Homo sapiens: one gene and its partner. The protein of the gene in region 1 interacts with the protein of each later gene in a pairwise test. Each region holds a gene or a part of one and is shown in the gene's direction. Other genes may lie near its edges. The genes, in order: GKAP1 and SH3BP4.

The links.
Region 2: the proteins of GKAP1 (region 1) and SH3BP4 interact in a two-hybrid assay, tested with the Homo sapiens proteins (one study listed by BioGRID and IntAct).

The regions. Positions count from the first base shown.
Region 1 is NC_000009.12:83,813,073-83,824,520, reverse strand, and holds the start of GKAP1 (G kinase-anchoring protein 1), read left to right. Parts: upstream 1-6,751; 5' UTR 6,752-7,004; intron 7,005-7,037; exon of another isoform or gene 7,038-7,289; intron 7,290-7,393; 5' UTR 7,394-7,525; intron 7,526-8,504; exon of another isoform or gene 8,505-8,595; intron 8,596-11,448. UniProt on the Homo sapiens protein: Regulates insulin-dependent IRS1 tyrosine phosphorylation in adipocytes by modulating the availability of IRS1 to IR tyrosine kinase. Its association with IRS1 is required for insulin-induced translocation of SLC2A4 to the cell membrane.
Region 2 is NC_000002.12:235,035,670-235,046,220, forward strand, and holds part of SH3BP4 (SH3 domain-binding protein 4), read left to right. Parts: intron 1-5,218; coding exon 5,219-7,578; intron 7,579-10,551. UniProt on the Homo sapiens protein: May function in transferrin receptor internalization at the plasma membrane through a cargo-specific control of clathrin-mediated endocytosis.

The DNA.
Region 1 (11,448 bases):
ATAGATGGGGTATCTCTGTGTTGCACAGGCTGACCTCAAACTCCTGGCCTCAAATGATCCTCCTGCCTGTGTAAATTAGTTCAACCATTGTGGAGGACAATGTGGCAATTCCTCAAGGATCTAGAACTAGATATACCATTTGACCCAGCAATCCCATTATTGGGTATATACCCAGAGGATTATAAATCATGCTACTATAAAGACACACAAACATGTATGTTTATTGTGGCATTATTCACGATAGCAAAGACTTAGAATCAACCCAAATGTCTATCAGTGATAGACTGGATTAAGAAAATGTGGCACATATACACCATGGAATACTATGCAGCCATAAAAAGGATGAGTTCATGTCCTTTGCAGGGACATGAATGAAGTTGGAAACCATCATTCTCAGCAAACTATCACAAGGACAGAAAACCAAACACTGCACGTTCTCACTCATAGATGGGAATTGAACAATGAGAACATTTGGACACAGGGCGAGGAACATCACACACTGGCACCTGTGGGGAGGGATAGCATTCGGAGGTATACCTAATGTAAATGACGAGTTGATGGGTGCAGCAAACCAACATGGCACATGTATACCTATGTATCAAACCTGCACATTGTGCACATGTACCCTAAACTTAAAGTATAATAATAATAATAATAATAAAGATCCTCCTGCCTCAGCCTCCCAAGTAGCTGGGACTACAGGCATGAGCCATGATGCCCAGATATCACCTCATTCTTAAATGTGGTGAACAGTTGATGATCTCCATTTATTTGAAGAAACCTCCTTACATAAAAGACAGAATCTACAATGAACAAACAAGAAAAGAAAAAAAAGCTTTAGAGGCCAGTTGTGGTGTAATCCCTGCACTTTGGGAGGCCAAGGTGGGTGGGTCACCAGAGGTCAGGAGTTCGAGACCAGCCTGGCCAACATGGTGAAACCCCATCTCTACTAAAAATACAAAAAAGTAGCTGCGCGTGGTGGCACACACTTGTAATCCCAGCTACTTGGGAGGCTGAAGCCGGAGAATTGCTTGAACACAGGAGGCAGAGGTTGCAGTGAGCTGAGGTCATGCCACTACACTCCAGCCTGGGAAACGAGTGAAACTCCGTCTCTAAAAAGAAAAAAAAAAAAAGAAATTGGAGGAAATAAAAGCAGTACAGAAAGCCAGAAAACATGTCAAAATCAAGAAATTCTCAAAAATTTTAACTTCCATATACTCTTCTCACTCAGGAAACTGCTGGAAGGAGCACTCCATCCAAGTAAAGGCGTATATCAAGAAACAGAAAAACATGTGGCTGGGCACAGTGGCTCACACCTGTAATCTCAGAACTTTGGGAGGCTGAGGCAGGTGGATCACTTTAGGCCAGAAGTTTGAGACCAGCCTGGCCAATATGGTGAAACCTCATGTTTACCAAAAATACAAAAAAAAAAAAAAAATAGCCGATATGGTGGCACATGCCTGTAATCCCAACTACTTGAGAGGTGGAGGCAGGAGAATCACTTGAACCTGAGAGGCGGAGGCTGCAGTGAGCTGAGATTATGCCTCTGTACTCCAGCCTGGGTGACAGAGTGAGAGTCCGTCTCAAAAAAGAGAAAAAGAGAAACAGAAAAACATGGGATCTGGTAAACCAGAACTCCAACAAAGCAGAAAACAAAGAGAATTCTCTAGACAAGCTTTTCCAACCTGTGGTGTGTGGCCCAGGATGACTTTGAATGTGGCCCATCACAAATTTGTAAACTTTCTTAAAACATACTTTTTTGTGATTTTTTTTTAGCTCATCAGCTATTGTTAGTGTATTTTATTGTGGTCCAAGACAATTCTTCTTCCAGTGTGGCCCAGGAAAGCCAAAAGATTGGACACTCCTGCCCTAGATGAAGGTGATGGGAGGTTCCAGGAAGTCAGCTGTGTAGCAGGCCTGGAGAGCACACTAGAGGATGGAAGTGTCTAGAAGGGATGTCTCCAAGAAAAGAAAATGGAAATGATGGATTACCTAATATGTCTGAAACTTTTGAACAAAATTTCACAACTCTGGTGGAAAATACGGAGATGTAATGGTGATAGATATAGAGAAAACTAAGCAACCACCAGGTGTGGTGGCTCACATCTGTAATCCCAACATTTTGGGAACTGAGGCAGGGGGATGGCTTGAGCTCAGGAGTTTTGAGACCAGGCCAGGCAACATTGTGAGACTTTGTCTCTACCTTAAGAAAAAAAAAAAAATTAGCCAGGAGTACTGGTGCACATCTGTAGTCCCAGCTACTCAGGAGGCTGAGGTGGGAGCCTGGGAGATTGAGGCTGCAGTGGGCTATCATCGCGTCACTGCACTCCAGCCTTAGTGAAAGAATGAGATCCAGTCTCAGAAAAATGAGAGAGAGAGAGATAAAACTAAGCAACTTAAGAAAGAAGGAAGAGCCAGGCGCAGTGGCTCATGCCTGTAATCCCAGCACTTTGGGAGGCCGAGGCAGGCAGAGCACGAGGTCGGGAGATCAAGACCATCCTGGCTAACACGGTGAAACCTGTCTCTACTAAAAATACAAAAAATTAGCCAGGTGTGGTGGTGGGCACCTGTAGTCCCAGCTACTCGGGAGGCTGAGGCAGGAGAATCGCTTGAACCAGGGAGGCGGAAGTTGCAGTGAGCCGAGACTGCACCACTGCACTCTGGTCTGGTTGACCGGGCAAGACTCCATCTCAAAAATAATAATAATTTTAATTTTTGTGCATACACAGTAGATGTATATATTTATGGGGTATATGAGATGTTCTGATACAAGCATGCAATGTGTAATAATCACATCATGTAAAACAGAGTATCTAGCTCTTTATAACCGAGGTTTTTAATGTAGATTTTGAACATTCACTGTGCATTGTTTGATGTGGCAGAGCTAGCATCTGTAGATGTATCTACTTGAAATACACGTTGGAGGTAGGACAGAGTAGTCTATGACAAGTTTTAAAGCACTGTCATTTAAATTGGAAAACCTGGCATGTGTCTGGTGTTTAATACAGACAGATGGGCATTTCCTGTAAAAGAAGGCAGTTACCATCGTAATTTGAGAGGTCAGAGAGAAGCAATTAGAAATCTCACTTTAGCAACATAAAACGTAAAAGCATCTGTTTAATGAAATGTGATATTTGCAAGAGTTTAACATATTAAACCACTGATGTCCCTGTGCAGCCTAATTTGAAGAATTCAACCCCTCACTCATAGATTAAAGATTTTAGTACTAGGGCTACTATCACTCTCTCCAAAACTACTCACTACTACAACACTACTGTGGAATCACTCTTGCGGTAATTCTTTGTGAGGGGTATGTGTATATATGTATGTATGTATGTATAACAGATATATATAACTATGTGGATGTTCATTTCAAAATCCTTACTGTGTCTCAATTCCTTGACCTCCCTTCAAAGGATCTCGTACCCTCTGGTACCTCAATTATCCATTCTCATATGCATTCCTTACACTGTAATATTACTGGTAACTACAGGTCCTCCTCTAATTTAATTCAAGCCTCCACTCTCCAACCACCTCTTATCGTTCCAAGGTCATTGCATATAGTAACTAAACTTCAACAATTCTTCAACCTCATCAAAAACACCAATTCAGTCACTCTACCGTCTTTCCACCATTCTTCACTCCTCTCATAGCTTTACTTCTTACCACTTCTGAAATTATAAGGCCTCCTTTGCCTCTATCAACACCAACTCTGCCCTTATCTTCCCCTTATACTTGCCTGGTCAAATCTCAGTCCTGGTTACTGCCAAAACTGCCTACTCAGTGCCTGCACATGAGCAACTGAATATGGCTAGAGAAAATTGCATAACCAAGTGGCTAGCCTCACTATAAATTCATGACCACTTATTCAATGGGGCTCTTAGTAATGCCTGGAAACTTTACCATGTTCTTTAGTCAGTTCACTCTCCCTCACTCATAAACTCTGATTTCACCTCCCTTCTCTCTTTTTTTCTCAATACTTTCCGTTAAGGACTACATTACCTAGAGTAGGCTAAACTGCTATAAAAAATAGACTGCAAAATGTTATGGCTCCAACTCAATAGAAATATATCTTGCTCACATAATTGGGTGTCCAGGTCAGTGGGTAGCTCTCCTTCATCCAGGCACCTTCTTTCTTGTGGCTCTGCCAACCCCAGAGGTTTGTGGTCATCTGCATAATTGAATCAGAGTCACCGTGTCCAGGGTCCAGCTGGCAGAAAGGAAAATGCATGAAAGAGGCACAAGTACTCTCAAAGTAAACGCCTTGGCCTGACAGTGGCAGACATAACATCTGCTCACGTTCTATAACTTAATACTTGACCATATGCAACTGAAAGAGAGGCTGAGAAAAGCAGTCTGTGTTTTCAGGGAGAAAGGGAGACTAAATTGTGATGGACAATTAGCAGTCTGCCAAAATGATCTTGCTCCTCACTTTGCTGAGAAAATAGAAGCAACTGGAAGAGAACTACTTTCTCCCACTGTCCAATCTATCTACTTATCTCGACATGTCCCATACACGTGGGAACTGGGGAAGATGGGATGGATCCCTAGACTAAACTTGACCAGAAAGGGGATCTTTCTTCCCAGGCTTTCAATAAGAACAATGTGGTCTCAAAGACCCTACTACCTAATCACAAAGTGCAAACATACCTTCTTTCCTTGTGCTTTTCAACCTCTGTGGTTTTGGATATTGTTGAGCAACACTCCTTCCAGCCCTGTTTTTGTGAAACTCCAATTTACCTTGTCTTGATGATTCTGCGTTACCCTATTCTCCTCCCATTTTCTGCTCCATCCCCTTTCTTTGCTGGCTTGGCTCACCTAGATCAGAGCTTCTCAAACTTTTTGATGTGACACAAATCTCTTCGGGTTCTTGTTAAGTTGAAGATGCTGGTTCAGCAGGTCTGGGGTGGAGCCTGAGATTCTGAGTTTCTAACTAACATCCTCATGTCAGTGCTGCTGGGCCACTGACCACGTTTTGAGTAGCGAGACTCTAAAGAGGGTGTTTTCCAAGATTCTGACCTTTGTTTTCTTCTTTTATCTCACAGCAATATCACTCCTAGGCTGATTATTTATGAGTCTATTTTCTAGTTCAGTCCTCTTTCCCATATTACAAAACCTTTATTTCTAACTTATTAGTGTCCATGTCTCTCTGGCTGTCTTGACAACCCTTTGAATTCTTAAAATGTCCAAATCTAAACTGATCTCTCAAGAAGTAGCTCCCTCTCCTTTGTAATTGTCTCTTTTCTCTCTTGCAATTATCTACAAACTCAAAACCTCCACTTTCTTTGATTTCTCTCTTCCTACCCACAATTAATCAATCAGTTGCCAAATTCTATAGATACTGCATGCACATCATCTCTCAACTATGCTCTTTTAAATTCCCCTAGCTGTCCCTTTAGGTCAGACTCATCATTTTTACCTGGCCTACAGTAGATCTGTCCGTTTTTCCACCTCTGATTTCTGCTTCCCCTCACAGATAAATCACTAGCACAAAGAAAAAAAAAAACCTTCCTTTTCTTCCCCCAAACTTCTGAACCATAAAAACTCAAAATACTGAATTAAATATAAATTCATCCATTTGGTATCTTAGGCCCCATACTCCTTTGTCTTTTCTACCTCTCAACATACCCTGGAGTCTTTGCTCTTTCCCCAACACAACTTTCACTGATTCGCCTTCATATATATTCTCATGCTATCCCTGCTTGCTGTAAAACTCTCCCTGTCTCCTTCAAGGTCAATCCCAAATGCCTACTCCTTCATGCTGCCTTTCTTTCCTTATCCCCAAGACAGATATACACGGTTCTTTGATTCCCGGCAGTACTCTGCCACTTTTCACGTGGCACCTATCATGGTTTGTCTTTTATTGTCTGTTTTATCTTTGTTTTATTCCTTACTTCTTTGAAGGCAAAGGTATCTTCAACTCCCCTCTAACTCTGAAGCATCTTACCTGTGGGGCGTCTAATATTAGTTGAATCATGGGGATTTATGGAGATAATGTGATGCGCTGGTAAGCTAACAGAATTGGAAGCCAGTACAGCTGGGTGCCGGCTCTGCCGTTTATTAGCTGTGAGGTTTTGGGTAAGTCACTTAACTTCGCCTGTAAAATTAGTCCACTACGACCTGATGGAGAACCAAGGGAGATAACGTTAAAGCGCCCTGCAACTCTACAGGGAACTGAGCAATGTTAGTTATTTTCCTTACAGAGATCTGATGCACTCTTGCTACTGGAATCTTGACTTGCAGGACCATCCCTACTTCATTGCCTGGAGGTCGAACCCCAAGTTGCAGGGAACCCAAGCTACCAGGTCCCACTGCCCTTTTCCACTCCAGGGCCCTCTAACCGCTCTCCGCGTCGCAGGTGATCCTGCCTTGCTGCGGGGGAGTGGCCTAGAGTCTCACTCCCTCGGGAGGCCTCCCTCCTTCCACCCGCTTGAGGAGAGCCCTTCTCTTCCCTGTGACCCCGAAGACCGTGGCGCCGCCGCCTACGTGAGGCGTTTGGACCCTGCCCGGCCCCCGTAGCTCCCCTTCTCCAGCAGGTGGTTCTGGTCCTCTCCCCCAACTCGGGCGCTCACGTCACCGGCGAACCTCTAACCAGCGCCAGCGCCGCTACCAACCGCGAAAATAAACAAACCCCCGCGCTCGGCGGACGCGCCAGGCCCCGCCCCCGCCCCCGCCCCCGCCCCGAGGCTCTCACGCCGCCTCCTCCGCCCGGGCTTCCCTCCACCCTCCGCCCGCCCGCCTGCTCTCAGCCGCGCTCTCCCCGCCCCTCACCGCAGCCTGCAGCCGCGCTCACCTCCGCGGTCCGCCCCGGCGCCCCGGGACCCGTTAGTGCCCAGCCTGTGGGCCGACCGCGACCCCCGCCCGGCGCGAGCCTGCCCCCAGCTCTGCCGACACTTGACCCAGACCAGTCCCAACGCCCAGTGCGGCCGCCCGGGGAGCCGCGGGAGAGGCGGCGGCGGGGGGAGGAGGGAGAGGAGGGCCGAGCCGGCGGCACGGGAGGCCCGGTGAGTACGCGGAGGCGGGCCCGCCTCGCGGGTGTCCGCTCCGGCACCCCGGAGGCGTAGGCAGCGGCTCGACAGCGCTCCCCTCGGCGCCCCGGCCTCGGGTGGCGGGGACTCGGCCTGAGGCGACGGGCCCCACTGACCGGAGCCGCTGGGCAGAGGGCACGGGAGGGCCGCGGCCCGACGCTCGGCGCAAGGCTCGGGGCGGCGGGGAGGGACTCGCACCCGACTCCCAGGCCGGCGACCGCTGAGCCTCCCGAGACCCCGTGGGGGCCGCTCGAGTGACAGGTGCCACCGTCCCCTCCCCGCCGCTGGCGCCCGCGCTCCCTCCCGGGGAGCCGGGCGCTCGGAAATTTCTGGAGCAACGACCTGACTCGTTTTCTCCCTTTCAGGTTTTGAAGCCGCTTCTCTGCCCGAGTTAGGTTTCGCCCAGCGCAATTTCTTTCTCTATGTACTTTGCGAATAAGTTTCGGAGCATCGGTTAACAGCCTATGGGTGAAATTTGGCTTTCATTCATGAATGAGGTATAGTGAATTACTTTTTGAATATAGTGCTCCTCCTCCTCCCCCGCCAGCTATTGAAAAGTGATTTTTTTTTCTGTTATTGTTTGGAACAGCCTTACCGAATTTTTGTCAGATCTCTAGCATTAAGGTGCTTCATAAATATTGAACAGTAACGACAAAAATAGTTTATCAAATTGGCTGATTGCCTTTTCTCTTCCTCCTCTTTTTCACTCTTTACCTTCGCCAGATTTTTCAGAGTAGATGCAAGTGCTTTCATTAGAAGAACTAATGAAAGATCGTCTGTCTTACACTAAAAAGCCGGAGACACTTTTCTTCACCATTTAGCATTGTCTGTTGTGTAGTAAATGTGCTTGGGATTGTAACTGGAATCATTTAATAAATGTGACTTGTAGCTATAAAAATATTTGAGAAGCTTTTTGGCAAATTAAAATATTAAAAATCTTCATAGAAGTCTAGATTTCTTTTCTCAACAGATTTATAACACTATAGTAGCTTCAATTCTGGAGTAAGAGCAAAACCCAGAAGTTGACCAAAAGAACCTTGTGTGAAAATAGATGTATTTTACTCGTGGGAGAATCCCTCAGGTCCTCACTGAGTACCTGCTTGTATTTTTTGTTTAACTTTCTTGGCCTGCAGAAAGTGGGAGCTGCAGATTGGAGAGGGATCTCAGTACTTAACTATGAGAAAAAAATGGAGTTTGGGGCATACCCATTGGGTTTACATCACTTACAGTAAGTGTGTTTGGAGCAGAGTTTTAGTATGCACTTCACACTTGCTGATTGTGAACCCTATTTTTTTTTTTTCTTGAGGCGGAATTTTGCTCTTGTTGCCCAGGCTGGAGTGTAATGGCGCGATCTCGGCTCACAGCACCTTCTGCCTTCCAGGTTCAAGCAGCTCTCCTGCCTCAGCCTCCTGAGTAGCTGGGATTACAGGCGCCTGGCTAATTTTTTTTTTTTTTTTTTTTGTATTTTTAATACAGACGGTGTTTCGCCTTGTTGGCCAGGCTGGTCTGGAACTCCTGACCTCGTGATCTGCCCACCTCTGCCTCCCAAAGTGCTGGGATTACAAGTGTGAGCCACCACACCTGGCCTGTGAACCCTAATTTTTAAGAAGCCAAAGTGAAAGATACTGTTTGGTTATCTGAAGAACAGAACATGAAATAACACAATTTTTTATTTCACCAGGTGTTAAATCAGTGATACTTGGTGCCATTTCATATTACGCTCAGTTAATTTCGATCTAAGTTATATTTCAGTGAGGCCACACTAATTGGCATCTACATTAATACCTTTTTTTGGTCAGGCTAATTGGTAGTGTTAATAGAAGATGGCTATCATTCATCTCATAAAAAGTAATATATTTGGTTGTTCTTGATTTAAGGATTTTATATGTATAATTGTGTGTGTGTGTGTGTGTGTGTGTTTTCTGAAGTTCCCTAATTGTGGTCTTCTGGACTGAGATATGGCTGCTGCTGTCTTGATTCTAGTGAGGTCATAGTGTAGAGGGATAAGGTCATAATGGCAATGTGCCTCCAAACCTTGATAGAGGCCAAGACTACCAGCCACTTAGGAATTCTTCTGCTTGGGTCGGGCTTGGTGGTGCATGCCTGTAATCCCAGCCCTTTGGGAGGCCGAGGCTGGAGGATTGCTTGAGCTCAGGAGTTTGAGATCAGCCTGGGCAACATAGTGAGACCCCATGTATACACAAAGAGAAAAAAAAAATTCTCCTGCTTGTAGCTTAGGCTATTCATTTTTAGAAGCAGTTTACTTAAGCAGCCAATGCATCCTAGTTCTCTTAAATTAACACTTTAGTTTTTCATTTTTTTGAGACAGTCTCTCGCTCTGTTGCCAGGCTGGAATGTGGTGGCGCAGTCTTGGCTCACTGCAACCTCTACCTCCCTGGTTCAAGCGATTCTCCTGCCTCAGCCTCCCGAGTAGCTGGGACTACAGGCGTGCGCCACCATGCCCAGCTAGTTTTTGTATTTTTAGTAGAGATGGGGTTTCACTACGTTGGCCAGGATGGTCTCGATCTCTTGACCTTGTGATCCACCCGCCTTGGCCTCCCAAAGTGCTGGGATTACAGGCGTGAGCCACCATGCCCGGCTGGCTTAAATCAACACTTTAAAACCAGATATGCTTCCTAGACAAAATTGGTTGTGGCAATTAGTTTGTTAGAATAGTACTTACCGTAATGAAACAACTTTGAACTGCTAATAATTGCTCATGCACATCTGCGTTATGGGAATTGAGGATTGTCTATTGTGCACTTCACATATTTCTTTTTCTACTTGTAGAGCACATTTTTCACTGCATAGACAGCTGTGTACTTGAAGAATGTAAACATGAAGAAAACACTAAGTTCAATAAATGTGTCTTCTATGTGCCAGATCCTGTGGTATTTGTAAGGGATAGAAACTCTTGTCTTTCAGGATCTTGAAATCAGGATCATAGGGGCTAGGCACAACAATAAAGAGAATTTTTTTGGAGTCCATTCAATAATAGTAAGTTTAAAGTATGGAAATATTACAGAGGAGGGAATGTTTAACTTCAGGAACAGGTCAGAGAACGCTTCATAGATATGCTAGCACCTGAGCAGGATTTTGAGGAATAAATGGAAGTTTTCAGTGGAAGAGATAGATGGCATTGTAGACAAAAGAGAACAGCATAGTTAAAGATATGAACAAGTAAACTAATTGTGTGTTCAAGAAATTTCAAGTTGTTTTTTCTTGGAGTACATGCAAAATCTGAAGAAAGAGGGTTGCTAGAGAAAGCCCTAACGCATGCTATTACATTTAATAAGTCAAATAATTGGCTTTTTGGGTATGAAGTATATGTAAAATAAAGACTTTGTTATATTTTTGACATTGCTGCCATCTTTTTTTTTTCTTTTTCTTCTTTGACAAAGGGTCTCAGGCTGTAACCCAAGGTGTAGTGCAGTGGCACAATCACTGCTCACTACAGCCTCGACCCCCAGGCTCAGGTGATCCTACCACCTTAGCCTCCCAAGTAGCTGGGACCACAGTCATGCACCACTATGCCTGCTAACTGTTGTACATTTTGTAGAGAAGGGGTTTTGCCATGTTTCCCTAGCTGATCTTGAACTCCTGGGCTCAAGCAATCTGCCCACCTCAGCCCTTCCAAAGTACCAGGATTACAGGTGTGAACCACCATGTGTGGCCTGCTGCCATCTTAAGTATAAATTAATAGTTTGTACTAGTGGTAGTCATTACATTATGGAAGATAGTAGAAGATATATTTATTTATGGTGAACTGCCTGCATATTGAGAATGTGTGTTTATTTCACATTTTGCCCTGAAACATTTCTGTTTTTAAAATTATCGTGTGAATTTATTTTGTCTTCCTTCAACTATACATTATCCTTGAAATTAGTTTTATCATTTATTTTATGAGATACGGTTTTGCTATGTTGCCTGGGCTGGTCCCAAACTCCTGGACTTAAGTGATCTCCTGCTTCAGTCTCCCAAGTTGCTGAAATTACAGGTGTGCACCACTGAGCCCAGATATCCTTGAAATTATTTTTAAAAGGAACTCAAAGGGAGGAGGGGAAAAATATAAATAAAATAATCATTAGATTTCTGCACCAAAAACCTGATTTGTGTAGTAGTTTAATAATATGTAAATGTTTAATATACAGTATTAGCCACCATATTCATAGACTAATTTAAGTAACTTAATTGGCAGTCCATTGTATTTTCATTTGCATTGTATGGCTTAATTATATTATGTGTATATAAATGTCTAAGCATAGAAGCATCTAAATTTTAAAGACCAAGTGTATTTGAAGGAGAAAAAGTATAGAGAGGGAGGGAGAAGAGCTGTGTTTGAATCTATTTATCCTAACATCTCTTAGATGTGACTGTATGTGGAGATGCAGAAGTTTAGGACACAAGACTGAAGGAATAC
Region 2 (10,551 bases), on another chromosome or scaffold:
CCCAGGGCCGTGCTTTACCAACCCCTGATCTAGAAGGTGGTTCTAAAGTTTAATAACCCTGGGTCTCTGGGTTTCTCCAGTGGCCTCGTAAAATTGAGTTCATGAGAAAACCTATCTTTTGGACACCAAGGTGAATACTAGCAGGTCATTTTCTTCCTGCACATCTGCCCTAACCTAGGCCACGTTCAGTCTCTCTCACATGCTCCTTTGGGGCTTGGCAGTTGCGGTGACAGCACCATCATCATCAATATCATCATCCCTTGGCTTTCTCTTAGCTGTTGAAACTGTCTTGCCTGGAGCACAGCTGAAAAGTAGGAACTTGACTTTGACCATTTGTATCCTCGGCCCCAGCCTAAAGTCAGTGCTAAGTAAATGTTTCTTGAACTAAACTGCTATCCCCCAGATAAAGTTGTAATCCTCTACCCTGATGTACAAAAATTATATGCACTGTGTTTATGTCTGTCTAATTGAGTAGCTTCTCCTTCCCCTTTATCCCAAACATCTTCTCCCTGCCTCTGATTGATGCTGGCATCCCTGGGCATTGCTGTAAATGTTCTTTAAAAGAAACGTCTAGCCCGTGTGAGATTTTATTTGTAAGAGAGCAACAGTGATTGGGTGTTGCCATAAATAACTGAAGCATTTATTTTTCAGATTCTGTTAATGGACATTTTGTTTTTTACTTTATAGCCCAACTCATCAGAGTCAAAGCTGGAACTTGTGAGCATAAATTGTGTGATTTGGGCAGAGTGTTAAAGTGAGGAGGGCAGAGTCTTAAAGTGAGGTGAATTTTTAAAAATGTCAGTGGGCTGGGCGCGGTGGCTCACGCCTGTAATCCCAGCACTTTAGGAGGCCGAGGCAGGCGGATCACGAGGTCAGGAGTTCGAGACCAGCCTGGCCAACATGGTGAAACCCCGTCTCTACTAAAAATACAAAAAATTAGCCAGGCATGGTGGAGCGTGCCTGTAATCCCAGCTACTCAGGAGGCTGAGGCAGGAGAATCACTTGAACCCAGGAGGCAGAGGTTGCAGTGAGCCGAGATCACACCACTGCACTCTGAGACTCTATATAAAAAATAATAATAATAATAATGACAGTGCTCTGGAGGAAATATTGGCTGTTATCCCTAAAAGAATCCCTAATTTAGAGGAGGAAGACAAACAAGACAGCCTTGAACGTGAGGAGGAGGACAGCCTCAAACATGAAGGGGAGGGTGTTTTGAGAATCTGAGGTGGACAGAACCATGGGATCTCTGGCCTTGCCCAGAGATTCTGGGGAATCTACCTCCGAGGCGCCACATGTGACCCAGGCAGTTTGCTAGCCAGAAGCTTCACGCACATCCCAGTGATAGACAGACTTCAAGGTGGGAATTTATTTCAGCCAAAGTATCTGCCATGAAACCTTCTACTCTGATGAATGTTTTGCCTGCAGAAGAACGTAGGCAGACGGATAGGAAATGTATTATTCAGTACATTGAACTTCCTAACACCCAGGGAGATTTTTGTATTAAAATCAAGGTGGCTGTGAATCTGGGTAACACTCCTCAGAATTCATTAAGATAGAATTCGTTAGGGATTCTCTGGCATTTGATGGGATGGAAGCCCTTCCCCAGTGTCCCCAGCTGCTTGGTGGCAGTTGACTGATGGAGGGCCTCATCTAGAAGGGGGAATCACACAACAGTCCACCTCCCTAGGGTTCTGGAAAGGAAGAGTGGGGTGATTTCCCTTGGCTAAGCCTGATCCCTTGAGTGAGATCTGTGACCATTTCTCTTCCAAGGAGAGTGCTGGGAATTTTAAGTAAAACCATTCTTATTCTTCAGTTGGATAAAACTGAATGATAATTCTCATTGATACATTCTAGGCTATGCACAAAGCATTCTTGATTGCTTTGGTTTCTTAATTTTGAAACTACTGTAAGGGAATTATTCTGAGGGAGCATAATAAGGACATAACCTTTGAGGGATTCTAGCAAGATTTTGATGGCCGGCAAGCTCTATTTAATTTTCATTTAGTTTTCATCTTTATGTGACATTTCCAGTAGATTGTGTCAAGGAGATAAAATGGTTTATATTCCTGGAGATCATGACTAGCAAAACAGAAATGAGAGAGAAGAGCTTCTGTATCCTCTGGCCTCAGCCTGACCCACATCAATTCTTCCCACCTCTCCATGAAAGCCATTTTCTTTCACAGGTTTTGGTTCACTCCCATCTCATATTAAATAATTTGTTGGTTTTATGATTTTTTTAGAGCACAAGGGCACAGCCAGGGGGAATTCAGACACTGCTTTCACCAACACCAGGATCCAATAGCATAGATTATGGCTTCTCTGTGTCGTTTACGCATGCACGATGATCATTCATTCCACAAATACTCATTGAGTCCCCGCTACGCGCCAGGCCTTGTACGAGGCCCAGGGATACAACAGCAAACAAAACAGGCTCTAATGGTGCTGATACCCTAATGGGGAGATGGAGGCTCCTCCTGCAAAAGAAACACACATACACACACACATACACATATTTCATATATATATACACATATATATAATATATATATAAAGGATATATGTATTTTATATATATATTATATATAATATATATTATATATAATATATATTATATATAATATATATATTATATATATATATTATATATTATATATATATTATATATAGTATATATATTTTATATATATATATATAATATATATACATATATATATATATATATATATATATATATATATATATATGAGGTATGTAGAGAAGGAAAAATTCTTAGTTCTTGGCTTGGGCCCCTATAACAAAAGACATTAATAAGAGAAAAGCATGCAAACTTACTTAATATATGTTATATGTATATTACAGATATATAATTTCTTCATAAGGAAATGAAGACTTAAAGAAGTAATTAAACCTGAGGGATTTGATGAGGTGTGGAGAGTCCTGGAAAAATGAGATGGGACAAGAAAAAGCATAAGCAAGTGTCATGAGCTGGAGGACAGCAAGGCCTGGGCATTGCAGATTCCCTGTGTCCTTGGAGATAGGATGCTCTGTCCCCCACATATAGGGAGGGCCCCTCCCACTTGAGGGTCTATGACCTGCTTCAGGGGGCAGGCAGGGAGTCCTGCCTGCACCTGCGGTTTCTCAAATTCCTCCAGCTTAAAATATGTGTGGTGCTATATTTTGGGGTAGCATGTTCTGAACCTCATCAGGTACATGATGTAGTGGTTGGTGGTAAGAGCTATGGAAAAAGATAACATTGGGGCCAGGAGATGTCTATTTCACATAACATCCTGTGTGTCCTCAAGTTGGGTCAAGCAATATTATGACAAGTGCCTTATCTACGTCTTTGCATTTTGTCCTCTCCAAAGCTCATTGAGGAAATACACTTTTTGTCCACCATGAGTGGAGTCTTAGGCTCTGGAGATCACACAGTTTCTAAGGGCTCCACTCGAGTCTGGGTTTAGTGATCCCAGAGCCGGGTTCTCTGAGACACCCAGATAGACGGGCCTGCTGTAATTTCACAGGAGGAGGTAGGTGGGGCTTCAAGGCCCAGGGATGCTCCCAGCTAAGCGCATCTCTGTAACCCAGTTAATGTAAATGAATAGAAACTGTCTACCTGATTTCCTAACACTTTCCCAAGGAAGTGTGATTATTTCCTTTCAAAGGAAAAGGAAACTGGCAGGTGATTTTCTGGGGTCGGGGGGGCAATTTGATAGAATACGATGACTGTGGACTTCATCACATTAGAAAAGATGTAGGTTTAGTTTAACTAAAAACGGATTCCTTTCTTTGGTCATTTGCTTTGGCAACTTAAAAAAAAAAAAGAAAGAAAGAAAGAAAGAAACGTTTCCTTTCTTTCTTTCAATTGTTTATTACGGGAAGCCAGAATGTCAGCAGACTCCGTAAGTGAGGCAGTTTGGGAGGTGGGGGAGGGGAGTCCTGGGGAGAAGTATATGTGCTTATTTTCTTCAGAAAGAGTGTTCTTCATCTTCTGAATATATCTTCTCATTTAATCATATCCATTATTTTTCAAAACACACCACTTGTTTGGCTGACTTATTTTTGCTGTTTCATTTGCCGTCTACATTGGTAACATACAGAGTTCAATGGCAGGAGCCATGAATTAACTTGATTCACTTTTTGAAGGGTTGGAATTTTTCAGACTGCTTCAACACTTGTTCAATGATAGTATGAGCTATGACTAGGCATAATCTCTCATTTTCAAGGTATGTAGACAGTCTGTTTTCATGTTGTGATTTTGAATGATAATTTAAAAGAGGTTGGGCCAGGCGCAGTGGCTCACACCAGTAATCCCATCATTTTGGGAGGCTGAGGCGGGAGGATCACTTGAGGTCAGGAGTTTGAGACCAGCCTGGTCAACATGATGAAACCCCATTTCTACTAAAAATACAAAAATTAGCCAGGCATGGTGGCACACACCTGTAATCTCAGCTACTTTGGAGGCTGAGGCAGGAGAATCACTTGAATCTGAGCGGCTGAGGTTGCAGTGAGCTGAGATCATGTCAATACATGCCAGCCTGGGTGGCGGAGTGAGACACTGTCTCATAAATAAATAAATAAATAAGTAAAATAAGAATAAAAGAGGTTGGAAGGAACTGACTTCAGAATTCTTACTTTATCTGAGGAAACAGTTTGGTGAGGAACAGGTTGAGTTTGGAAATTTAAGAAGCAGGTTGAGGGAAGCTTTCCATCCAGAGGCAGAGCTTGGAATCAGCTCATACATGTCATTGCGGGAGTTTTTGGAATCTGTTCATTTCCAGTCCCTGATCACATGCAGTGGTCACCTAACTCACCGTGTCACCGTGTTTTCTAAGTTAATCACATTCAGTTTCTCTTTGTATCTAGTAGCAGTTCTTTTAAGAAGAATTTTAACGTTGCCCAAAATGAGATGTTTAGGGCGTAGGGCATGTTAAATATTCCATTGCACTGATTTGCCTTTCTGTGAGTGATGGAGAGGCTCCTCTGTGGTCTTTCTGCCGGACATAGGCTGTCGATTTTGAAGGTGACCAAGTAGCAGGAACCAGTTCGTTGGCCAGGTAAATTACCTACTGAATTTCACTTTGGTTTGTTTCTGTTGGTGACTTGCCTGGGTTATTGTGCACCTGTCTGTTTACCACCGTCCTCTCTCCTTTGGGAAGCTCTCCGGACACCCCGCCGGCCTTGCCCTCACCATCTGTTTTCTTTGTGTTTTGCACAGTGCCTTCTCCCAGTGCCTTGCTCGTAGACAACCCCACACCTTTCGGAAATGCAAAGGAAGTGATTGCGATCAAGGACTATTGCCCCACCAACTTCACCACACTGAAGTTCTCCAAGGGCGACCATCTCTACGTCTTGGACACATCTGGCGGTGAGTGGTGGTACGCACACAACACCACCGAAATGGGCTACATCCCCTCCTCCTATGTGCAGCCCTTGAACTACCGGAACTCAACACTGAGTGACAGCGGTATGATTGATAATCTTCCAGACAGCCCAGACGAGGTAGCCAAGGAGCTGGAGCTGCTCGGGGGATGGACAGATGACAAAAAAGTACCAGGCAGAATGTACAGTAATAACCCTTTCTGGAATGGGGTCCAGACCAATCCATTTCTGAATGGGAACGTGCCCGTCATGCCCAGCCTGGATGAGCTGAATCCCAAAAGTACTGTGGATTTGCTCCTTTTTGACGCAGGTACATCCTCCTTCACCGAATCCAGCTCAGCCACCACGAATAGCACTGGCAACATCTTCGATGAGCTTCCAGTCACAAACGGACTCCACGCAGAGCCGCCGGTCAGGCGGGACAACCCCTTCTTCAGAAGCAAGCGCTCCTACAGTCTCTCGGAACTCTCCGTCCTCCAAGCCAAGTCCGATGCTCCCACATCGTCGAGTTTCTTCACCGGCTTGAAATCACCTGCCCCCGAGCAATTTCAGAGCCGGGAGGATTTTCGAACTGCCTGGCTAAACCACAGGAAGCTGGCCCGGTCTTGCCACGACCTGGACTTGCTTGGCCAAAGCCCTGGTTGGGGCCAGACCCAAGCCGTGGAGACAAACATCGTGTGCAAGCTGGATAGCTCCGGGGGTGCTGTCCAGCTTCCTGACACCAGCATCAGCATCCACGTGCCCGAGGGCCACGTCGCCCCTGGGGAGACCCAGCAGATCTCCATGAAAGCCCTGCTGGACCCCCCGCTGGAGCTCAACAGTGACAGGTCCTGCAGCATCAGCCCTGTGCTGGAGGTCAAGCTGAGCAACCTGGAGGTGAAAACCTCTATCATCTTGGAGATGAAAGTGTCAGCCGAGATAAAAAATGACCTTTTTAGCAAAAGCACAGTGGGCCTCCAGTGCCTGAGGAGCGACTCGAAGGAAGGGCCATATGTCTCCGTCCCGCTCAACTGCAGCTGTGGGGACACGGTCCAGGCACAGCTGCACAACCTGGAGCCCTGTATGTACGTGGCTGTCGTGGCCCATGGCCCAAGCATCCTCTACCCTTCCACCGTGTGGGACTTCATCAATAAAAAAGTCACAGTGGGTCTCTACGGCCCTAAACACATCCACCCATCCTTCAAGACGGTAGTGACCATTTTTGGGCATGACTGTGCCCCAAAGACGCTCCTGGTCAGCGAGGTCACACGCCAGGCACCCAACCCTGCCCCGGTGGCCCTGCAGCTGTGGGGGAAGCACCAGTTCGTTTTGTCCAGGCCCCAGGATCTCAAGGTCTGTATGTTTTCCAATATGACGAATTACGAGGTCAAAGCCAGCGAGCAGGCCAAAGTGGTGCGAGGATTCCAGCTGAAGCTGGGCAAGGTGAGCCGCCTGATCTTCCCCATCACCTCCCAGAACCCCAACGAGCTCTCTGACTTCACGCTGCGGGTTCAGGTGAAGGACGACCAGGAGGCCATCCTCACCCAGTTTTGTGTCCAGACTCCTCAGCCACCCCCTAAAAGTGCCATCAAGCCTTCCGGGCAAAGGAGGTTTCTCAAGAAGAACGAAGTCGGGAAAATCATCCTGTCCCCGTTTGCCACCACTACAAAGTACCCGACTTTCCAGGACCGCCCGGTGTCCAGCCTCAAGTTTGGTAAGTTGCTCAAGACTGTGGTGCGGCAGAACAAGAACCACTACCTGCTGGAGTACAAGAAGGGCGACGGGATCGCCCTGCTCAGCGAGGAGCGGGTCAGGCTCCGGGGCCAGCTGTGGACCAAGGAGTGGTACATCGGCTACTACCAGGGCAGGGTGGGCCTCGTGCACACCAAGAACGTGCTGGTGGTCGGCAGGGCCCGGCCCAGCCTGTGCTCGGGCCCCGAGCTGAGCACCTCGGTGCTGCTGGAGCAGATCCTGCGGCCCTGCAAATTCCTCACGTACATCTATGCCTCCGTGAGGACCCTGCTCATGGAGAACATCAGCAGCTGGCGCTCCTTCGCTGACGCCCTGGGCTACGTGAACCTGCCGCTCACCTTTTTCTGCCGGGCAGAGCTGGATAGTGAGCCCGAGCGGGTGGCGTCCGTCCTAGAAAAGCTGAAGGAGGACTGTAACAACACTGAGAACAAAGAACGGAAGTCCTTCCAGAAGGAGCTTGTGATGGTGAGTGCTCAGCAGGTGCCTGGGCGTTCAGGGGTGCTGCTCAGCAAAGCCTTTCCGCCTTCCCAGTGCACATGGGCGTGGGCCGTGGTGTCGTAAGTCACCAGGACAGTGTCTGTGGCTGATGTCCCGCTGCCTGAGATAGGTGCGGCTCAGCACAGCCTTTCGCCTTCCCAATATGCGTGGGCGTGGGCCGTGGTGTTGTAAGTCACCAGGACAGTGTCTGTGGCTGATGTCCCGCTGCCTGAGATAGGTGCGGCTCAGCACAGCCTTTCGCCTTCCCAATATGCGTGGGCGTGGGCCGTGGTGTTGTAAGTCACCAGGACAGTGTCTGTGGCTGATGTCCCGCTGCCTGAGATAGGTGCGGCTCAGCACAGCCTTTCGCCTTCCCAATATGCGTGGGCGTGGGCCGTGGTGTTGTAAGTCACCAGGACAGTGTCTGTGGCTGATGTCCCGCTGCCTGAGATAGGTGCGGCTCAGCACAGCCTTTCGCCTTCCCAATATGCGTGGGCGTGGGCCGTGGTGTTGTAAGTCACCAGGACAGTGTCTGTGGCTGATGTCCCGCTGCCTGGGATATACGTGTGGGGCTTGAAGTGTGCTTGAAGTGGAGATGGGGTTTACGGGGGATCCTGGGGGGCCCCAGACAACCCAAGGACCCTGCAAAGAAGAGCATTCCAGTTACTTTTCCCACCGAATCTGTGAGCTCCAAGAGGGTCCCAGAATGGACCAGATGCGGGTGGGGGCAGAAGGCGGCCTGTGCTCTCGCCATTCAGTTTAGATCTCTTGGGAGCAGATGTGGTTCGTTAGATTCCCAACAGGGTCTCTGACTCCAGAGTCCCACGAACCGCTGCCCCAAAGCCTGTGTTCATTGTAATGTGAGTTTTTCTTGCCTTTGCTTCCTTGAAGCTTCTAACATCTCTGTATTGTTTCCACTTCCCCCTCTGTGTTGGTTTGAGTTGGGGCGAGGACAGCATTTGTTTTGCCAGCACAACCGTGAACTGGAATCCAAAGAAATAAAAGGGGGAAGTAAGCATCAGACTGTGGGTTACGCCCTGGCCCACGAGCCAACCGGGGAGCATTTGCTCAACGCTTTCTTAGCACTGCTCCCCGCAGGCAGCCCCACCGTCAGCAGAGCTGGGTCCTGGCGGTTACCTTGGCTAGGCTTAGCCATATCCGTGTCCTGGCATCCCCAGGGGTGTTTGTGGTGGAGAGTCCCTGTGGACTTCTCCCTGTGATAGAACGGAGTCCACCCCTATCCTCCGGAGAGGGGCGCATTGCTGGTGTTCATTCCTGTGGGAAAACCCTGTGACCTTGGCGTGTGCCGCTCTTCCTCGTTCCTCTGAGCCCGCAGGCTTTCTTGCATCCTAGCTTCTGAGAGGCGTGCTTCTTGGTGCCCGGCCTTTCTGCCACCTCCCCGGCTCCCCTGGATTGAGCCCTGTTTGTCTGGGAGAGCCCAGAGTGTCCTGTAGACACAGGTGTGCAGGCAAGGGTCACATGTGGCACATACCCGGCTCGGCTGCCCATGTTGAGCCAGGAGACAGAAGGGACGCAGCCCGGCAGGAGTGGGGCAGGAGTCGGGTGAGACCCTCTCTGGGTGGCCTGCAGTCGTGTGCAGTGCCAGAAGCATGGAGCCACGAGATTGCCCAGGGGAGGGAGATGGAACTGGAAGCGGCCGTCAGGGGGGCCACCTTGGCAACCAGGAAATCACTGCACTTGGGTGGGGAGGAAGCGAACAAACGCAGCAGGGAAGCCTCCGGGCCCCCATGTGGGGTCACCTGCAGGGAGGGGATGGCCTGCGTCCCTCCCATCAGCCATCACCCATGTGTGATTCAGAGCACACCTCCTGGCTCTCCAGAACCTGGTGCCGGGCCGTGGCCTGGTCTCCTCACGGGTGCACCCAGCACAGTGGCAGACAAAGCGCCTCCATCCCGTGAGAGCCTCTGTGCGGGCGGCCCCGAGACCACAGCCGTGGCTGTGCATGCTGTCGTGGAACCTGACAGCATTGCTGAGCCCAGGACACTCACCTCGACGTTGCACCAGAGGTGGAAAAATGACACAACCAGGAGTACCACACCAGCTGTGGAAAATAACCGCCGAGTAGGTGGCTTTTACACTCATTTTCCTGCTTTTTTATCTTTTTCCAAAAGACATAAATGATCAAACTCTCTCAATTCGATTGGTGAGCATCTCTGGGAGGGGATTTTTTGGTGGGCCTCCCTGTCCGCTCCAGGGAGGGGTGTGTCCTCTGTGCCCGAGTCCTTCCGCTACCCAGAAAGGAGGAAGTGAAACTTGCCCTTGGCCAGGTCGGCTCCCTGAGGCAAGGTTAGATTTTGTGGTGATAAAGTGAAACTGGTTTTGCAGTGTCCCCACCCGCCCCCCACACCTGTGTCAGTCATCATCTTGGCCAAACTTATAGAAACCACAGACGGATTTCTCCCAGGTCGTTTATTAGGAGACCCTGAAAACTGGCTGTTCTATTCCGCTTGTCATCACAGGGCTGCCACGATTTCTGCGGCCTCTGCCACCGCTTTACCTGCCCCTCCCAGAGAGTCACAGCCAGGCCACCCCCTGCCTCTCATTTTTAGCATAGCTTTCGGTGTCCTTGTTCTGATGCCTTGGGTTGGAAACAGTGTTTAAATGATGGGGAAAATGTGAGAGTTTGAGACAGTCAGTGTGCAGGGAGATGGGAAGGAAAAAGGAGTCAAATGAGACCTGGGTTGTTCCTCTCTCCACTGCCTTTAGAACGGGGTCAGCCTTTGCCCCTGCCCCACAAAGTCGTGTAAGATCTGGCCCTACCCATCCCAACCCTGGGGGCCACTGTGCTCTGTGCACCCCTGCCCTGAACACACCCAGCTCGCCCGGCCTCCAGCTCCTGCAGATGCTATGCTGTTCCTCTTCCTGGAGCTCCCTTTCCCAGACCTCCTCATCTCCCTCAGCTGCCAGCTCAAATGCCGTCTCTCCAGGACGTCCTTCTCT